2 separate regions of the Homo sapiens genome follow, and region 2 is linked to region 1. Evidence: fine-mapped expression QTL. A gene starts in region 1. The other region holds a variant in brackets. All regions are shown on one strand. Distances are between the middles of the regions. Region 1 holds the start of STAC3 (SH3 and cysteine rich domain 3). Region 2 overlaps LRP1 (LDL receptor related protein 1).

Evidence for each region.
Region 2: its variant is fine-mapped to the expression of STAC3 in whole blood (TOPMed, PIP 0.98).

Annotation. Positions count from the first base shown.
Region 1 is chr12:57,246,765-57,255,763 of GRCh38, forward strand. STAC3 (SH3 and cysteine rich domain 3) reads right to left here and starts at 4,423. Exons shown (of 12, transcript NM_145064.3): 1 at 4,229-4,423; 2 at 2,807-2,873; 3 at 2,277-2,544; 4 at 1,942-2,039; 5 at 1,362-1,434; 6 at 40-137. The coding sequence starts at 2,872. R3HDM2 (R3H domain containing 2) reads right to left here. Exons shown (of 24, transcript NM_001394031.1): 24 at 7,000-8,349. The coding sequence ends at 8,009. RefSeq lists an enhancer at 2,134-2,193.
Region 2 is chr12:57,150,440-57,159,438 of GRCh38, forward strand. It overlaps LRP1 (LDL receptor related protein 1), which reads left to right. Exons shown (of 89, transcript NM_002332.3): 7 at 3,769-3,931; 8 at 4,040-4,262; 9 at 5,655-5,844; 10 at 6,338-6,481; 11 at 7,963-8,199. Among named protein-coding and RNA genes, the nearest start is that of LRP1-AS, 7.3 kb to the left of the region's middle. The variant T/G (reference allele first, on the strand shown) is at 4,638.

The sequences.
Region 1 (8,999 bases):
ATCTCTGGGAGGGACCTCGTGGGGAGGTACAGTGCTCACATTTTTCTTATCTGCCTGTCCCTTCTTCCGTTCCTTGTTTGCCATGATCACCCCAGTGCGCAGGGTTTCAAACACAGGATCATTGCGATTGGCAGCAGCTAATCGAATGGGAGGAGAAAGAAGACATTATTGGGAAGGCAGAGAAAGGCTTGGAGGAAAGGAAGGGAGAGGTGGGATTGAGTAGATGGATACCCATGTGTGTGTTGGGTGGCGGTGGGGGCGCCGCGGGGAAGATTAGGGAAGGGTCAGCTAGGCAATACCCAGGACACCAATCTATAAAGGACTTTAAAAACATCACTGGTGATGTAAAGTGAGGGAGGAAAGTATTTATTAGAACTCCTTCCAGGCAGAGCATTATATGATGTTTGAAACACAACTTTGCTTGCTTGGGAGCTGAGACATGCGCAGAATCACTATTCTCCTTCTAAGGAGAATGGGCCCTTAACTGCTGGCTTTTGTTCTGCTAAATGGCATGTGTAAGCTGAGGTGCTGCCACCAATAGGTTCTTCTTTTTCACCCATGCTCTTCACAGAGTTCAGCCTCTCCTCCAAATAAATGTTGAGCAAATTTGTCAATGAATATGTTTTTAAGGGTTGCCAAATTATTATTATTATTATTATTATTATTTTTTTTTTTTTTTTTTTTTTTGAGACGGAGTCTCGCTCTGTCACCCAGGCTGGAGTACAGTGGCACAATCTCGGCTCACTGCAAGCTCCGCCTCCCGGGTTCATGCCATTCTCCTGCCTCAGCCTCTCCGAGTAGCTGGGACTACAGGCGCCTGCCACCACGCCCGGCTAATTTTTGTGTGTTTTTAGTAGAGACGGGGTTTCACCGTGGTCTCGATCTCCTGACCTCGTGATCCACCCGCCTCGGCCTCCCAAAGTGCTGGGATTACAAACGTGAGCCACCGCGCCCGGCCTGGGTTGCCAAATTATGAACCTGCCCAGGGTGCCTGCAGCCTTTGGGTCTTGCCCCGAGTCTGATATGACTCTGTAGTAAGGATGAGGACAATCTAGAATCCTTGTTCTTGCTTAGAAATGATTTTGCACACAAAGAGCACAGATTCTGAAGCTAGCAACTGAAGATTCCAGTCTTGGCTCTACCTCTTGCTAACTGTATGTAGTTGCAACTAAATCGTATCTCCCTCTGCTGTAAAATGGGGATATTGCCTCTGCATCCAAATGGATATAAAAATGTGAGGTTGAGGGAGAATTATGGGAAACAGAAAGTTTCTGTTTCAGAATTTGGCTCCCAAAGCTAGAGATGGCATGAAACCATCTCTAGGCTTGCCCATTCCCTCATGTTCCATAAAGGGCACTTACAGAGATCTTTGACACAAGCGTACTGCTGGTTGCTGTAGAGTGGGGAACTATAGGCCCGATGGAAACCAGGTGGCTGTAGGATGGGATGAGAGGAAGCATTAGAGGTAGCAAAGTAAGGTCCAGAAGCCTATCTCTCCCAGGAGTGCTCACCCTTTCTCAGAAAAAGAGATGGGCTGAGAAAGAAAAAGCAGAGAAATGAATGGGATGGAGGAGAGACCAGCAAGGGGTAGCTGGCTGGTGACATGTCCCCTCTTTTTTTTTTTTTTTTTTTGAGACGGAGTCTCGCTCTGTCACCCAGGCTGGAGTGCAGTGGCACAATCTCGGCTCACTGCAAGCTCCGCCTCCCGAGTTTACGCCATTCTCCTGCCTCAGCCTCCTGAGTAGCTGGGACTACAGGCACCTGTCACCACGCCCGGCTAATTTTTTGTATTTAGAGACGGGGTTTCACTGTGTTAGCCAGGATGGTCTCGATCTCCTGACCTCGTGATCCGCCCACCTCAGCCTCCCAAAGTGCTGGGATTACAGGCGTGAGCCACCACGCGTGGCCATGTCCCCTCCTTGCTCTCCACAGCCTACTCACGATCTTGCCGAAGCATCTCTGCATTTCCACATAGGACTGACAGTGTTCATGGATGTTGGTTTTGCAGTTCTTACAGCGAAGCCCAAACTTGTTGTTGACTTGGGAAAGGGGGAGAAAATTCAGATAAGGTTCCAGATTGCCCTTTCCCTTTGTACCACTGCTGCTACTCTTAGGTTTCCTTTTCTGTCTGGGACCCTACTTGCTCAATCTCTAATAGCATTGCCTTACACCAACTCTAGCCACAGCCCATCTGCTACAAATACTCCTCTCCTATGCCCTCTCCCCAAACCTCTGCCTTCAATATCATACTCTCTTCACTTCCCTTCATGACTCACGAACAATCATCCGGGCACAGACATCACAGAACTTTGGCTTCTTGAAGAAGTGATCTTTGAATTTGTGGGGCTTATCGTTGACCAGCTTAGGAGGTTCTGGGGGTGGCTCCTCCTCCTCCTCTTCTTCCTCTTCCTCTTCCTCATAGATGTAGTAGATGGGCCCACCCCCAGCTCCCACTGCCTCCCCATTGGCCTGGGGCTCTGGGGGAAGTTCCATCTCCTTTGTCCCTGTAGAACCCTTCCTGAGTAACTGCTTTAGCCGCTGTAGCTGAGGGAGGGAGTGAAGAAAACCCAATGTTAAAAGGACTTGTCACCCTCTCTAGAGTAGGGGGGCGCTAGAGCAAACTAGACAGTTTTCTAGTTTCAGGCAAGGAATGTACCCCAGGATTAGGGGGGTATTGGTATTGGGGACTGCAGGTGCTGGCCAGCAAAAAATGAGTCACACACAAATGAGATCAATTTAAGCACTCTTCTTCAGCTGTAATGGCTTCCCAGCCCCCCACACCCAGTGGTCAGAGGCCCAGACTCACCCCACTTTGCCGAGTCTCTGCTGGGAAGGAGGGCTTAGGGGACTCCAGCACCTCCTTTTCTGTCATCCTGCAAGAGGTTGGACCCCACTATGAAATCTAATCCCTTTCATTCTTCTCTCCCTTTCTGTCCCTTGCAGTAGGGTGGTCCTCAAAGGGGAGGCTTTCGGAGAAATGTGATGAGAGATTTTGCTGTTGTTACTGTTGAGATGGGGTCTCACTCTGTCACCCAGGCTGGAGTGCAGTGGCGTGATCATGGCTCACTGCAGCCTCGACCTCCCAGCCTGAAGCGATCCCCCTACCTCAGCTTCCTGAGTAGCTGGAACACAAGGTGCACACTACCTGGCTACTTTTTTATTTTTTGTAGAGACATGGTCTTGCTTTGTTGCCTAGGCTGGTCCCGAACTAGCTCAAGCAATCTTCCTGTTTCAACCTCCCAAATTGTTGAGACAGGCGTGAGCCACTGCACTGGGCCAAATACAGATCCTTTGGCAGGTTTTATTAACAGATTTCATGGAGGTCTAGAAAAAAGCTTAACATGGCCGGGTGTGGTGGTGCATGCCTGTAATCCCAGCACTTTGGGAGGCTGAGGCAGGCGGATCACTAGAGATCAGGAGTTCAAGACTAGCCTGGCCAACATGGTGAAACCCCATCTCTACTAAATATATAAAAATTAGCCGGGTGTGGTGGCGGACGCCTGTAATCCCATCCACTCAGGAAGCTGAGGAAGGATAATCGCTTGAACCCGGGAGGCGGAGGTTGCAGTGAGCCGGGATTGTGCCACTGCCCTCCAGCCTGGGTGACAGAGCAAGACTTCGTCTCAAAAAAAAAAAAAAAAAAAAAAAAAAAGCCCAACAGACTAAAGAGCTTCCCAATTAGTTCCTCAAACTGATACTCATCCTTCCATCCTGAGGGGCGACCCCATAGTTTACAGCCCTTACACAGTGTTCAAAGCTGCGTGGTTTACGTCATTTTCCTATAGGTACTTTGTTTCTCCTGGAAATCTGTGGGCAACAGAGATGTGATGCATACCTTCCCAGATCTCCTCTCTTCAAGAGGTTTAATGTGTGTCCTCGTGTGCACACAAGGAAGGATGGACTGGAGACATTTGTCCTCCCCTACTTTTTTCTTGAGCCCTGGGGGCCCTGTGCCTAGTTCTGTCCCAGCCTGCCTCAGGGCTCAGCTATTTTAAGTTTTCAGGGTAATATGAGCCTTTCCTTCCCTTACTACTTCATTCCCTTCACCCCACCCCCACCCCCACCCCCCGCTTCAATCCAAACTCATCCTAGAGTAGAATAATAATTTTACGCCTAAAACCCAAAAGACTCACAGACAAGGAGAGAAATGAAGAAGCTGAGTAGATTATAGATCAGGGCAGCTGGGGTGAGCAGTCGTGGAAATCAAGAGGATGAAGAGGTAACTTACGTTCGGGATTCCCTAAGTCAGTCCACAGGCTGTAGAGGGAGCTGGGAGCCTCGAGGCCTTGATGGTGGTGCTGGGGAAAAACTGGTCCTCTTCCTTGGGGGCTAAGCCCCCCCAGTACCCCCTGTGTTCACACCAGCTACCCAGTCGCTATTTGTAGACCTCCTAGCCTCCTGCCTTGGTGTCAGGGCTGAAATGACAGGGCTGGAGGAAAGTGGACAGCTGAGAAACACAGCTGACACAGAGAAATTGGACACTGAGAGGTCTGGGGCAGGGCCGGACCCTAACTCCTCCCAACCCCCTAGAGCTGCTGTTCCTTGATTCTTCATCTAAGGCGAACAGGTGAATAATGGCTGAATTCAGGAAGGGACAGTTTCTGTTCATGCTCATTTAACATTTAAGGGGAGTTTATTTTTATTTTTCATTTATTTTTTGAGACAGGGTAAAAAAAGACTAATTTGAACTCATAGAGCTCTCCTATCAGCCATACTAGATGGCTTTTTTTTTTTTTTTTTTGAGACAGAGTCTTGCTCTTGTTGCCCAGGCTGGAGTGCAATGAAGCGATCCGGGCTCACTGCAACCTCCCAGGTTCAAGCGATTCTCCTGCCTCAGCCTCCTAAGTAGCTGGGATTACAGGCGCCCACCACCACGCCAAGGTAATTTTTGTATTTTTAGTACAGATGGGGTTTCACCATGTTGGCCAGGCTGGTCTCGAACCCCTGACCTCAGGTGATCCGCCTGCCTTGGCCTCCCAAAGTGCTAGGATTACAGGTGTGAGCCACCGTGCATGGCTAGATTGCTTTTTATCTGTAGGTGGTTGGAGGAGTACTTTGCTATCCTGTAAGAAAGTGAAGAATATGTAGTATTGCTTCATTCCCTCCAGCAGCTCCCAGAGACATCTCCCCACCCTCCTTCTTGTAAAATTTTGTCCTCAGACTGAAGGGAATTACCAGGGCTATTAAAAAGGGCCAGTTAACACTGGACAGAAGCATATAGCTGCCACATAAGGAATTTTTTAAATCATTTCTAAGTAATGTCCCCTTCCTCATGAGAACTGCAAACTCTTAAAGGTAGGATGGCCAACCCTCACACTTCCTAAACCCTTTTGATTCCCTGATTCCATCTCCCACCTTTGATGCCTCAGTATATAACTGATGGATCAAAGAGACAGATGCCATTCTCATCTCACAGGGGTGCACCCTTCTACTCTTTGGGCTGTGACATGGATGAAAGAGGAGATACTCCCATCTCAGGGGAGAGCAATTTAGAGGTGGCAATGCAGTGCTGCTCTATTCCTTGTATCTGTAAGAAATAAAGGACTGTGTTGGAGACTGGGTCAGGCAAGCTCCTGTAGGATCGTCGTTAGGGATACAGCTACTTGGACCCAAGAGATTTCCAGGGCAACGTGCTTTGTCATTCTCACCCACTACTTTTTTCTATTTAAGGGGGGAGTTTGAAAAGGGGGTGCAGGATGGTTCTGACTCTGCAGGTTCTTTAATGGCCCTGCTCTGACAGGCTGCAGAACAACAGGGCTTGCTTTGAGATGCTCTAAAGGAAAAGCTCCATCTTGCAGGCAAGATGACTTCTGCTCTTCGTCTTTTTTCAGCCACATAGGACAGGGACTGCTGAGCATGTTTGGATAATACAGCATCTTGGCACTGCGAGTTCAGTTGCTGTAGCTTTCATTGTAATAAAAATCTGCTTCTGTCCCTGACAGGTAAAACCCAATCCTCCAGCTTTAGGATTAAAGAAAGGCAGCCAGGCACGGTGGCTCACGCCTGTAATCACAGCACTTTGGAAGGCCGAGGCGGGTGGATCACAAGGTCAGGAGTTCGAGACCAGCCTGGCCAACATGGTGAAACCCCATGTCAACTAAAAATACAAAAATTAGCTGGGCACGATGGGGCACAGCTACTCAGGAGGCTGAGGCAGGAGAACTGCTTGAACTCGGGAGGTGGAGGTTGCAGTGAGCCGAGATATCGCGCCACTGCACTCCAGCCTGGGCAACAGGGCGAGACTCCATCTCAAAAAAAAAAAAAAAAGAAAGGCCCAAGTTCTCCATCCCTAAAGGGTTTTCAGAAGACGAGCTGGGCTGGGAGTGGTGGCTCATGCCTGTAATCCCAGCACTTTAGGAGGCCAAGGCGGGAGATCACTTGAGCCCAGGAGTTCAAGACCAGCCTGGGCAACATGGTAAAACCCTGTCTCTGCCAAAAATAGCAAAAAAAAAAAAAAAAAAGATTAGCCAGGCATGCTAGATCGCGCCTGTAATCCCAGCTACTCGGGAGACTGAGGCACAAGAATCGCTTGAACACGGGAGGCGGCTGCAGTCAGCTGAGATCTGCCACTGCACTCCAGCCTGGGTGACAGAGCAAGACCCTATCTCAAAACTCAACTACAAGGGCCCTAAATGAGTACACAGTACCACAGAATTAATAGTCTGGAAGGAAACCTAGAGGTCACCTACTAAGTCCAAGTCTCTTATTTTACTGATCTGGACACAGATCCAGAGTTGAGAAGTGATATGCTCGATGAACCACAGTGGCAGAACCGGGAGAGCCCAAAGCCATGGTCCCATTAGAGATCTAGCCATCTATCAGAACCGTGTACAGGGAAGAGGATGAGACAGAGGGAATGGTGTTAAAATAGTGTGCGTATGCTAGAGAAAGCCATCCCAACCCACGACAAACACCTCCAACAGCTGTAGGGCTATACCTACCCAGGGCCTCCAACCCTTTACCCATACCAGGGCGGCAACAGAGAAACAGTGACTGATGTCCAGTGACAGATTTTTTTTTTTATATTTAAAAACAAAACCAACCTCCCCCCAAATAACCCCCAAACAAACAAAAAAACAGATTAAATAAAATTTACAGTGAATATACCCAGCAAACATCTGTATGTGCAATTAAATACTGTGTCTGTTACTGCGGCACGAACCTCAAACAAACAATATACAAGTGTTCTGGGGGGGCCAGGGGAATCCCAAGTTTTAACTCTGTGGGGTCTAGGAAGACAAGATGGGGAAGTGAGAGAATGGGGCAATCAATTTTGTTTATCTTAATTCTGTCCATATAAATATATTCATAAAGACCAAAAAAGGAAAGGAAGCTTGGGATGTTAAGGTAATAGGAGGACAGTGTGGGACTTTCCCAATTCTACCTGACCAAAAAATGAGAAATTAATTTTATGATAGGAGAAGAGATTTAAAAAAATGATAGAAGAGGATGGAAGCCAGGCACAGTGGCTCACGCCTGTAATCCCAGCACTCTGGAAGGCCAAGGCAGGTGGATCACCTGAGGTCAGGAGTTTGAGGCCAGCCTGGCCAACATGGTGAAACTCCGTCTCTACTAAAAATACAAAAATTAGCCGGGCATGGTGGCGCGTGTCTGTAGTGCCAGCTACTTGGGAGGCTGAGGCAGGAGAATCACCTGAACCCAGGAGCTGGAGGTTGCAGTTAGCCAAGATCGTGCTACTGCACTCCAGCTGGGGTGACAAGAGCGAAACTCCGTCTCAAAAAAAAAAAAAAAAAAAAAAAGAAGAGGATGGGAAGAAGAGTGATGCAAGGGGGGTCAACCAGGGAAAAAGAGAGGACCCATGGCAGGGGAGCAAGAAGGAGTCCAATGCCAGTGTAGGTATCTGTGTTTCCATCTTCATCACTGTCTTAGGTTCCAGTTTAACATCAGTTTCCTTACTTCCTGCCTCTGTCCATGGTCTGTCAGGATCCTTCAACCCCCTCCACCCTGCCCTTGCTCCTTCTGTGACAGTCCCTTTCCCCTCCTCCATTTATTGGGAGCTGGCTCGCTCCAGGATCCTCAGGTCATAGTTCTTTTTGGCCATTCGAAGTTTGAAGCGACTCACGGAGTTGTTGAGACGAAGGGAGGCATTTTGGGCAGCCAGGGGGCTGGGGAACACAGCCACAATGGTGTACAAGGCAGCGAGGTCCGAGTGGCGGCCATTCTCAGCAGTCCCACTGTTGTCCCCCCCACCCCCTCCAGGCAGCCCCTGAGCATCCTTGAGCCACTGGATCTTGGCGCCAGACATGGCGAGCTGCGTGAAGAGTTTGTCCGCCTCAGTACGGGTGATGCCCTCAGGGAGATCTGTCACCTCCAGCACCCGCCCCAGGACTGGAAGGGGAGGAGAGAGGACATGGTTGTGAGAGGAATAGGACAGGAAGGACTTGACAGCAGCCCAGCAGAGAAGTGTCCAGCTGACTAAGTCTGTATACAATGTCTTCAAAAGCCTGGCCTTTCTCTCTTAGCCCTTTCTTCCCCTCCCCACCATCCCAGCTCTGATCAGGGCAACTAGGAGAAAAACAAATGAACCTTTCTATTCTCCTAGCCCAGAGATACAGGAAAGAAGGGACAGGGAATCAGAATCCTGGGTTTCTGAGCTAAGAACCTATACCTCAGTTCTCTCACAAGGTGCTACTGCTATGAAGAAAATGTGGCTTTTGCTAATGTTCTTTAACAATAATGTATCAATCTGAAATATGTTCCATAGTTCCCTTCCCACTCAGAGGCTGGCTCAAATAGATTCTTCCTTCTTATCATCTCAGGAAGTCAAGTTTCCCTTCCTTTCCTTGTTTAGGAAATTGCTCCAAATCCCAAGACAGATCTTGTTCACCTAGTGGGAGGCTTGTAGGACGAGAGTTTCTCCCCCATATTCTCTACCAATCTTCTCCTAAACTGGGTCTAGGACTACCAAAGGTAGATGTCGTAGATTAGGGACAGGACACTAATTAGAAAACTCTTTGTTAATAAGAGGCAACTCCCAT
Region 2 (8,999 bases), 96 kb before region 1:
TTCAGCCTCCCAGAGTGCTGGGATTACAGGCGTGAGCCACTGAGCCTGGCCTTGAAAACTTCCTTCTAATAGGGCAAGCTTCCTTCTGGGAGCCTGAGCCGAGTCTTGACGAGTAGTAGGTGTTAGCCCCAAATGGCCCACCTGGAGGGCCCACCTAGAGTCAGGAGGCCACAGGGCTCTGGCTGGAGGCACAGAGGGCGACTTGGTGGAAAAGGTGGGAAAGGATGGGTTCAGGGAGGGGAGGACATGGTGGGAACCGCAGCCCCCATGTGGGGAGTGTTTATCATGCACCAGGCCTCATGCTAAGTGCAGTTAGTGTACCATCCAGTTTTACAAATGAGGAAACAGAGACTCAGAGGCATTAAGTAACTTGCTCATAGCCTCAGTTGGAAGGTGACAGAACCAGAATTCAAACTCAGGCTGTCAGTGTCTAGGGCCCAGTTGGACCCAGGGCAGAGCAGAATGATATGAGGAGAGGTGGGGAGGTTCCTGGAACAAGGGCCAGAATCTAGTGTGCTCCCTGGGGATGTGGATAGAGGTCCAGGGACCTCTTTGGATGTGTATACACTCTTGGGTGTGTAGATGTGTTGGGTGACATTTTCTCAGGACATAAAGGCTTCTTCCTTCCTTCCGATTTCCTTATTTTAGAGCAGGTGACTAGAATCCTGCAGCTGAAGCTAGAGTCTTTTTGGGCATGGGGTGGGTCCCATGTGTTTGGGAAAGCAGCCACCATGTATGGAAATGCCTCTTGAACAATGGGAATGATGGAGAAGTTGAGAAAAGCTGGAGTTGTAGTGAGTGCAGATGCTGAGCAGTGGGATGGGGTGCCAGGACACCAGGTCTATTCTGGGGCCTGGAACTGAAAGTCCTCTGTGCCATAATGGGCAGCTGTGGTCTCTCGTCTGACTCCTGCACCTCTTCCCTGCTTCCTAGCCTCCCTCTTCATGCTGGAATCCCCTGCCCCTCTGCCCCTAGACCACCCCCAACTCCTTCCACAACACAGCCTCCCTCTCTCCCCTTTGGTTTATTTGAGATTCTCCTGTCCTCAGGATTTTCGGCCTTTGGCCAGAGCCTCTTCAGAAGGTGCGCTCAGGTGGTTGGCCCTTAGAAGGCTGGGCGACAAGGGGACGGCTCCCCTCAGGGTTGGTGGAGCCAGAATGCTCAGGATCTCTGGGCTGAAGCCCAGGACTCCACCTGGACCCCAATTCATAAGACAGAGAGGGGTGGCCCAGATACTGCCTATAGGGCAGCCCTGGAGGCAAGGTTCCTCCTCTCCCTTTGAGCCCATCTCTCTACACTGGCCTTGGAGTGGTGGCCAAGTGTATGTGTGTGTGTGTGATTGTGCGTGCATTTGTGTGTGCATACGTGCGTATGTGCGTGTGTGTGTGGTGGGGCAGGCAGAGGAATCTGAACTTTAGGAGAGAGAAAAATAATGTGGTGCAGGGGGTTGGATAACAAAGGATTTTTGCTTGCAACTAATAGTCTCCAGCTGCAAAAATACCAAAGGGGAGGCCAGGCAGGCCGAGGACTCCAGTTCTTGCCAACTCCTCACCGGCCTGCTGAGTGGGGCCCTGCCTGGCCTTTGGGGAGGTGGAAGGGAGACCGGCCAAGGGTAAATATCTGAGAGCAGGGATGATCTCTCTGCCTTCCTTCCCGGAATTGGGAGGGAATCCAGGCCACATCCTGAGGCTGGGGGGGCTGATTGTGGAGCTGCACCTGGGATAGCGGCATCAGATCTCTGCAGGTTTCTTCCTTCTCTCTCTTGCCAAGAGAAGGGTGGATAGGGGGAGCAGGGGCAGGGTATTGCCAGCCCTAGGGCTGGGCAGTGACTCAGGGAAGCCTCAGGAAGTCGGAGAGAAGGCCGGCCGTAGCTGCGCCAGCTGGTGCTGGGAAAACAGCTTTCACTGATGAAGTTCATACACATGCCAGCAGCCCCCAGACCCCTGCCGTGCCCACCAAGTAAAGGGCACGCAGCCCTGTTTGACTTCCAGCCACCCTGCTGGCTGCCAGGGGATGCAGGCAGGTCCCTGCTTTGAGACTTCGATTTCCTTTGGAGGCAGCCCAGCAGCATTCATTTGAATCTGTTTTCTCTGTGGTTACAGCGTGTGGGGCAAAGAATTTGGTTGCCTTACCCCTGCACTAGGCCCTCTTCCTACAGGGCCTTGGCCTCCTCAAGCTACTCTTCCCCCTCTCTCCAATCTTGTGAGGATGGGACAGTACTGGGGGCCCAGAGGAAAGAGTGGCTGGGCTTGGGGATGCATGAATACTTACGGGGGTAATACCTCGTCTCTGTGGCCTTGTTCTCCAGGCATTGGGATGGGATTTAGCAGAGAGGACCTGAAGAAGAAACTAGTTTGATGAAGCCCTCAGTTGGCTCCTTCCCTTCCTGTCCTGTGACTCTGAGTCAGTGTCAGGGCCCAGCCAAGTTCCTTGAGAGCGGCGTTCCTGTTCTTTTTGCCCCCACCCCACCCTCACCCACTGTTAGGGAGCAGCCCCTGAATCCCTGTGGGGAGGAGGGGGAATTAGGGAGGGGTCAAGCAGAACAGCAAGTCATTATACCTGTAGCTGTGTGGGGGCAGAAGAATCCCTACTGGGTTGAGTATGGGTAATGGAGGATGAGTTTCAGCCCAAAGCAGGTAGCCCAAAGATTTCTTTACTTGTTGGGGAAACTGTTGGAGATGGAGTTCCAGGCAGGGGTCCCAGAAAGTCACTGCCTTAGGAGTTTCCCAGTTTGCAAGAGGCACCATCTCTGATGGTGGTAGTTGAAGGGGGTAGTGAGTAGATGGAAGGAAGCCAGTGGTCCTGGAGAGGAGGAGCCCAGAGGAGGCCAGCATGTGTCCCTGTCCCCAGACTTCCTGCCTCCTTGACTTCCGGCCACCCTTGCCCTGCCTCTCTTTCCTTTGGCTCTTCTTGGCTTCTTCCATCTCCTCCAGAACCATGCCTGAAACTGAGTCTAGGCAGCTGGGCTCCATCTCCTTCCCCCACTCCCATCATCCTTAAGCCCCATCTCTTTCTGAGCCATGCCTCAGTTTGCCCTGAGGATTCTTTCATGGCCCTCCTCCTAGACTCTCTCTCCTCCAGCCCTATGACTTATTCCCCACCTCTTCTGACCCTCCCCAGGACATGAGGACATTGAGCAATAAGGACATTGCAGGAACAGGGGACTGGGGCTGAGTAGAGGAAGTTTGGCCCATGTCACTGGTGCCCAACCTTTTGCCCCCATGGATCTTCCCTTTGGCATCTCTGTAGAGTTCATATTTTGAAATACTTTTCTCCCAAACTGGGTTTATTAGCGTGTACCCTGCTTTTCCACTTTAAAAATTTATGCCATATGTCCAGCTTCCAGTCAGTGCTTCTGGTTAGCATGAGATAACTAGATTTACTGTAGATGGTAGATAAAAGTCCAGTGAAAAGCAAAGATGTGTAATGTTTTGGTAGCCTCAGTGCTCTTATCCCAAGTAAAAGCAAAGTTAAAAAAAAAAAAAAACTGGACTGAGCTAGTGGACCTGTGCTCTCTACCTTTTGGTGCCCCAAGAAGATGGTCCCTTTTCAAGGATGGGCTAGAATTGGGAAGTCTGTCAGTCAACCAGCCAGCCAGCATTTACGCAAGCCCTCCTGTATATCCACTCTGAGCTAAGCATGGGGGTGTTGGGTGGGAGGGCGTCCAGAGAAGGTGGGCTTCCAGGTGTGGGTTCTCACCAGCAAAGGGTGGGCATCTCTGCAAGAGGGCCTACCCCACCCCATGGCTCTTTCATTCGTACTCTCCAGACGTGGAACAGATGGCCATCGACTGGCTGACAGGCAACTTCTACTTTGTGGATGACATCGATGATAGGATCTTTGTCTGCAACAGAAATGGGGACACATGTGTCACATTGCTAGACCTGGAACTCTACAACCCCAAGGGCATTGCCCTGGACCCTGCCATGGGGTGAGAGTGGCAGGCGGGGTTCTGGCCCTGGAAGGTGGGAGGCTGAGGCTACAGTGGTAAGGAGGGTGCCCAATGTCCAGACCCCATTTAACATGCATCTTCCCACAGGAAGGTGTTTTTCACTGACTATGGGCAGATCCCAAAGGTGGAACGCTGTGACATGGATGGGCAGAACCGCACCAAGCTCGTCGACAGCAAGATTGTGTTTCCTCATGGCATCACGCTGGACCTGGTCAGCCGCCTTGTCTACTGGGCAGATGCCTATCTGGACTATATTGAAGTGGTGGACTATGAGGGCAAGGGCCGCCAGACCATCATCCAGGGCATCCTGGTGAGGGAGCTACTGTCTGAGGTTTTGTGGGGGAACCATGATCCAGGGCCTTCTGGTGAGGGGGGAAGCCTCTGTAGGGGAACCGTTCTCTGAGTCTCCTGGTAAAGAGCGTGGATGCCCCAGGCCTCTAGTGGGAGTGGGGTGGGCTTGAATACTGCAGAGAAAGGACAAGATACGGGTTCCACTGTGATGGGAACAGTCATTTTAGAAACACCACTTCTGTTTACTTCCTGTTTCTCATTTGACCCTTATAATAACCCCTAGCTGATGAACAGGGAGGTGGTTCAGTTCCCTTTCAGCAGATGAAAAAGCAGGATCAAAGAGGTTAGGTGATTTGCCTGTGTTTACAAAGCCGGGTGATAGCACTGGAACTTG[T/G]TCTAGAAGCCTTGCTGGCTCAGAGGTGGCATCTCCATTGTGGGATAATTAGTGTGAGCAACCAGCCCAGTTTGCCTAGGACTGTCCCAGTTTTAGCCCTGAAAGTCTGGTAAGCCAGCAAACCCTTACCTTTGTCTTAGGCAAACTAGGACAGTTGGCCACCGCAGATAAGCTATGTGGGTAGTCAGGGGTGTTACAGGACTTGCTTGGGGCAAGTGTGTCCTCTTAGCCCTCATAACAGACTAAGAATGTCCTCTGTGGACAGAGTTTAGAGCCCATCTCTAATTCAGTCTAAAATCACTAAAGTGTCTAACGAGTGCCTAATTCTGTGAAGGACAGGGTTTCTGCCCTCAAGGGGTCTGAGTAGAGTGGGTGAGATAAGTCCACAAATCACTGTGCCAGACACGGATAGATAGCAGTGTCACGGAGGATGTATAGAAGGAGAAAACATCTCTGGTTAGAAGATTCCATAAATTCTTTAAAGACATGCTCTGTAGAGGATGAGTGGGATCTTGGTAAGCAAAAATCTTCAGAATAGGTTAGTCCAGCCAGAGGAGACAGGAGTAAAGCATTGAGTTAAAAAATGGTGGGGCCAGGCACGGTAGCCCACACCTGTAATCCCAGCACTTTGGGAGGCTGAGGCAGGAGAAGTGCTTGAGCCTCGGAGGTCGAGACCAGCCTGAGCAACATAGGGAAACCCCATCTCTACACAAAATTTGTTTTAATTAGCCAGGTGTGGTGGTATGTTCCTGTAGTCCCAACTACTCAGGAGGCTGAAGCAGGAGGGCCGCTTAAGCCCAGGAGGTGGAGACTGCAGTGAGCCGTGATCGTGCCATTGCACTTCAGCCTGGGTGACAGAGTGAGGTCCCGTCTCAAAATAAATAAATAAAAATTAAAAACTACAGGATGAATTGGGGAATGCAGGTCATGAAGTCTGGAGGAAGCTGAGGGGATCTCCAGGACAGAGGGAGGAACCCCTGTCATCTCATGCTGTCCATTCTTGCCTGCCCGTCTCAGATTGAGCACCTGTACGGCCTGACTGTGTTTGAGAATTATCTCTATGCCACCAACTCGGACAATGCCAATGCCCAGCAGAAGACGAGTGTGATCCGTGTGAACCGCTTTAACAGCACCGAGTACCAGGTTGTCACCCGGGTGGACAAGGGTGGTGCCCTCCACATCTACCACCAGAGGCGTCAGCCCCGAGGTGAGCAGGGCTCCATGGCCCCTCCAAAGCTGGCTTTACCCCATGATGGCTCTGGGACCTTGGGATCACAGCCCCTCTCTGGGCCCTCCTGTGGGGACCCTGGCTTCTTTCATGTCATGACCGATTCTCCTAGCCAGCCACTCGGGCTACCTGCCCTGGCCCCTCAGCTTCCCCTGCCAGCCCCCATCCACCCACTCAGCCTCCAGATCCCACTCTGTCCCTCCCATTCCCCTTGCCAGTCTGGAGCAGTAGCACCTGGCCATGGGCAACCCTGGAACTCTCTTCCCTGACTACTGAAGCCCCCACTCCAAGAGTTTGAAGGCTGGGTTGTTGGGGGGCAGAGGGTTTCCACCCCTGTGGCTTCCAAATCCTAAAATGGGATAGCAAGCACAAAGACCACAGCAGCAGGGGGTGTGGTCAGATTCAGGAAGCCTTCTCAAGGCCTGGCACAGGGGCTCTGAGGGGTCCTAACAGCTCTTCACCCTGCCCCCAGTGAGGAGCCATGCCTGTGAAAACGACCAGTATGGGAAGCCGGGTGGCTGCTCTGACATCTGCCTGCTGGCCAACAGCCACAAGGCGCGGACCTGCCGCTGCCGTTCCGGCTTCAGCCTGGGCAGTGACGGGAAGTCATGCAAGAGTGAGTGACAGGGAAGGGGGTGTGTGCCCATTGGGAGGCTGCGGGAGGGTTCCTCAGGTGTCCCCCACAGCCCGGCTGCCTCTGTCTGACATGCAGGGAGATGAAGGAAGTGTCCCAGAGTGTACCTGCTAGTGAGGGCAGAGATGGGACTTGAATCCATATTCGAAAAAAGTGCTTTTCTCACTCACCCACCGGACTCTGCAGAAAACTAAACTGATTCATTCAGCAAGTGTCTAGTGAGCAGTGAGCACTCACTACATGTTTGGCACTGTTCTGGTCATCAGGATTAAGCAGCGAACGAGATAGATGTTGTCCCTGGCCTCATGGAGCTTATAGTCTAGTTGGGGAAACAAATAAATGTAACTTTAGGTGGTAATAAGTGGTTATGAAGAAAATAAAACAGAGAATAGTCAGGCGTGGTGGCTTATGCCTGTAATCTCAGCACTTTGGGAGGCCGAGGCAGGCAGATCACTTGAGGTGAGGCGTTCCACACCAGGCTGGCCAACATGGTGAAACCCCGTCTCTACTGAAAATACAAAAATTAGCTGGGTGTGATGGTGCGTGCCTATAATCCCAGCTATTGGGGAGGCTGAGACAGGAGAATCACTTGAACCTGGGAGGTGGAGGTTGCAGTGAGCTGAGATGGCGCTACCACACTCCAGCCTGGATGACAGAGCGAGACTTCATCTCAAAAAATTAAAAATAAATGAATAAATAAAGCAGAGAATAGAGTTAATGAGGAGAGCAAGGGCCTCTCTGAGGATGTGGTGTTTGAGCCAAGCTCTCTGTGAAATGAAGAGGGCAACCATGTAACTCCCTGAGGGAGGAGCATGTCCGGCAGAGGAAATCAACAGTGCAAAGGCCCTGAGGCCAGTGTGAGTGTGGCAAGCCAGAGGAACAGCACGAAGGCCAGCGGGGCTGAGTGGTGTGAGGGCAGAGAAGGAGGCAGGGGTTGGATTTTATTATATCTGGGATAGGAAGCTCATAGTGACTTTTGAGAATGGAAGTGACATGATTGGATTCACATTTGTATAAAAGTCACGCTGCTACTGGGTGGGGGATGGGCAGTAGGGAAGTAGCCAGAAGACTTTCAGTGTAGTGGGCAAGAAGTGATGTGGTTTACACTAGGATGGCAGCAGAGGAAGTGGTAAACAGTGATGTGACTCCAACATATTTTGAAGGTACTCCTTTTATACCACTGATTTCATGACTGATCAGTGGGCACTTAGCTGAAAACCTGCTATTCTTCCCTCATTTCCTACCCTTGGAGTGCAGAGGTCAGACCCCAGGGTATTGCGGCCAGGACCCATCGTCCTGTATGTTAGCGTGTGCGTGGTCTGTCCATCTGACCCAGAGCCTCGCATCCCTAACGTCTCCTGACCCATCACAGCTAGGGCATTGCAGCCCCTTGGCCGCAGCCCCTGGGTGGGGATGATGGTCATGTGTGTGTCTGACTGTACCCTGGCTTGTGCCTGCTCTAGAGCCGGAGCATGAGCTGTTCCTCGTGTATGGCAAGGGCCGGCCAGGCATCATCCGGGGCATGGATATGGGGGCCAAGGTCCCGGATGAGCACATGATCCCCATTGAAAACCTCATGAACCCCCGAGCCCTGGACTTCCACGCTGAGACCGGCTTCATCTACTTTGCCGACACCACCAGCTACCTCATTGGCCGCCAGAAGATTGATGGCACTGAGCGGGAGACCATCCTGAAGGACGGTATGGGCTCCTAGGGATGTGGCCCATGGGGATGGAAGGGGGCTGGGGCCCAGGCATCTGTTTCTCGGTGCCCTCTCAGCAGGATGGTCCCCTGCTGACTGGCTGGCTGCACTGGTTGGCATGGAGATGAGGGGATAGACAGATTGACCCCTGTGTGACCCCCTTCTTGGCTGAGCCAAAGAGGCAGGGTTAGGATGGGTTAGGCAGCATGGGCCGTCCTTGCCAGCCCTTGGGAAAACTCAGGGTCTGTCTGCATTGGCTTAGAGCCCTGGAGCTGCACACAGCACACAGCCAGGGGACAACTGAGGTCTTGAATTGGAGACAGGCCTGCCAGATCAAAACAGGGCACACCCACATGTATGTGCGCACACAGGGTCTGTGCAGCTGACCTTGCAGTCGCCAAAAACTGCATGCTAATGTGTCCTGAGAAAATTGTGTTTTGTGAGTTGCATCCAGGTCTTCCCTCTGAGCTGCTTGGGCAGGTTCACAGTGCATTGTCTTTTTAATGTCTATGTGAAGGATTCTGAGCTGTACGAGTTCTGCCCCAAATCTGCACTTGGGCCTCAGGATCAGGCCGCCTCCCCATCAATCTGGTGGATGCCAGTTATAACCTTTGCCCTGCACCCCATCCACACTGTAGTTCAGAGAAAATCAACAGTCAGCAATCATATCACAAGACTTTGGGGAAATCAAAAGTAACTCATCAGGAAAAGATTAGGGGTCCCTATACCAAGGGAACTGCTATTTAAAGGACACTTGGAGTGAAGGCTTTGGCTAAGTGAAAAATCACTTCCTAATTT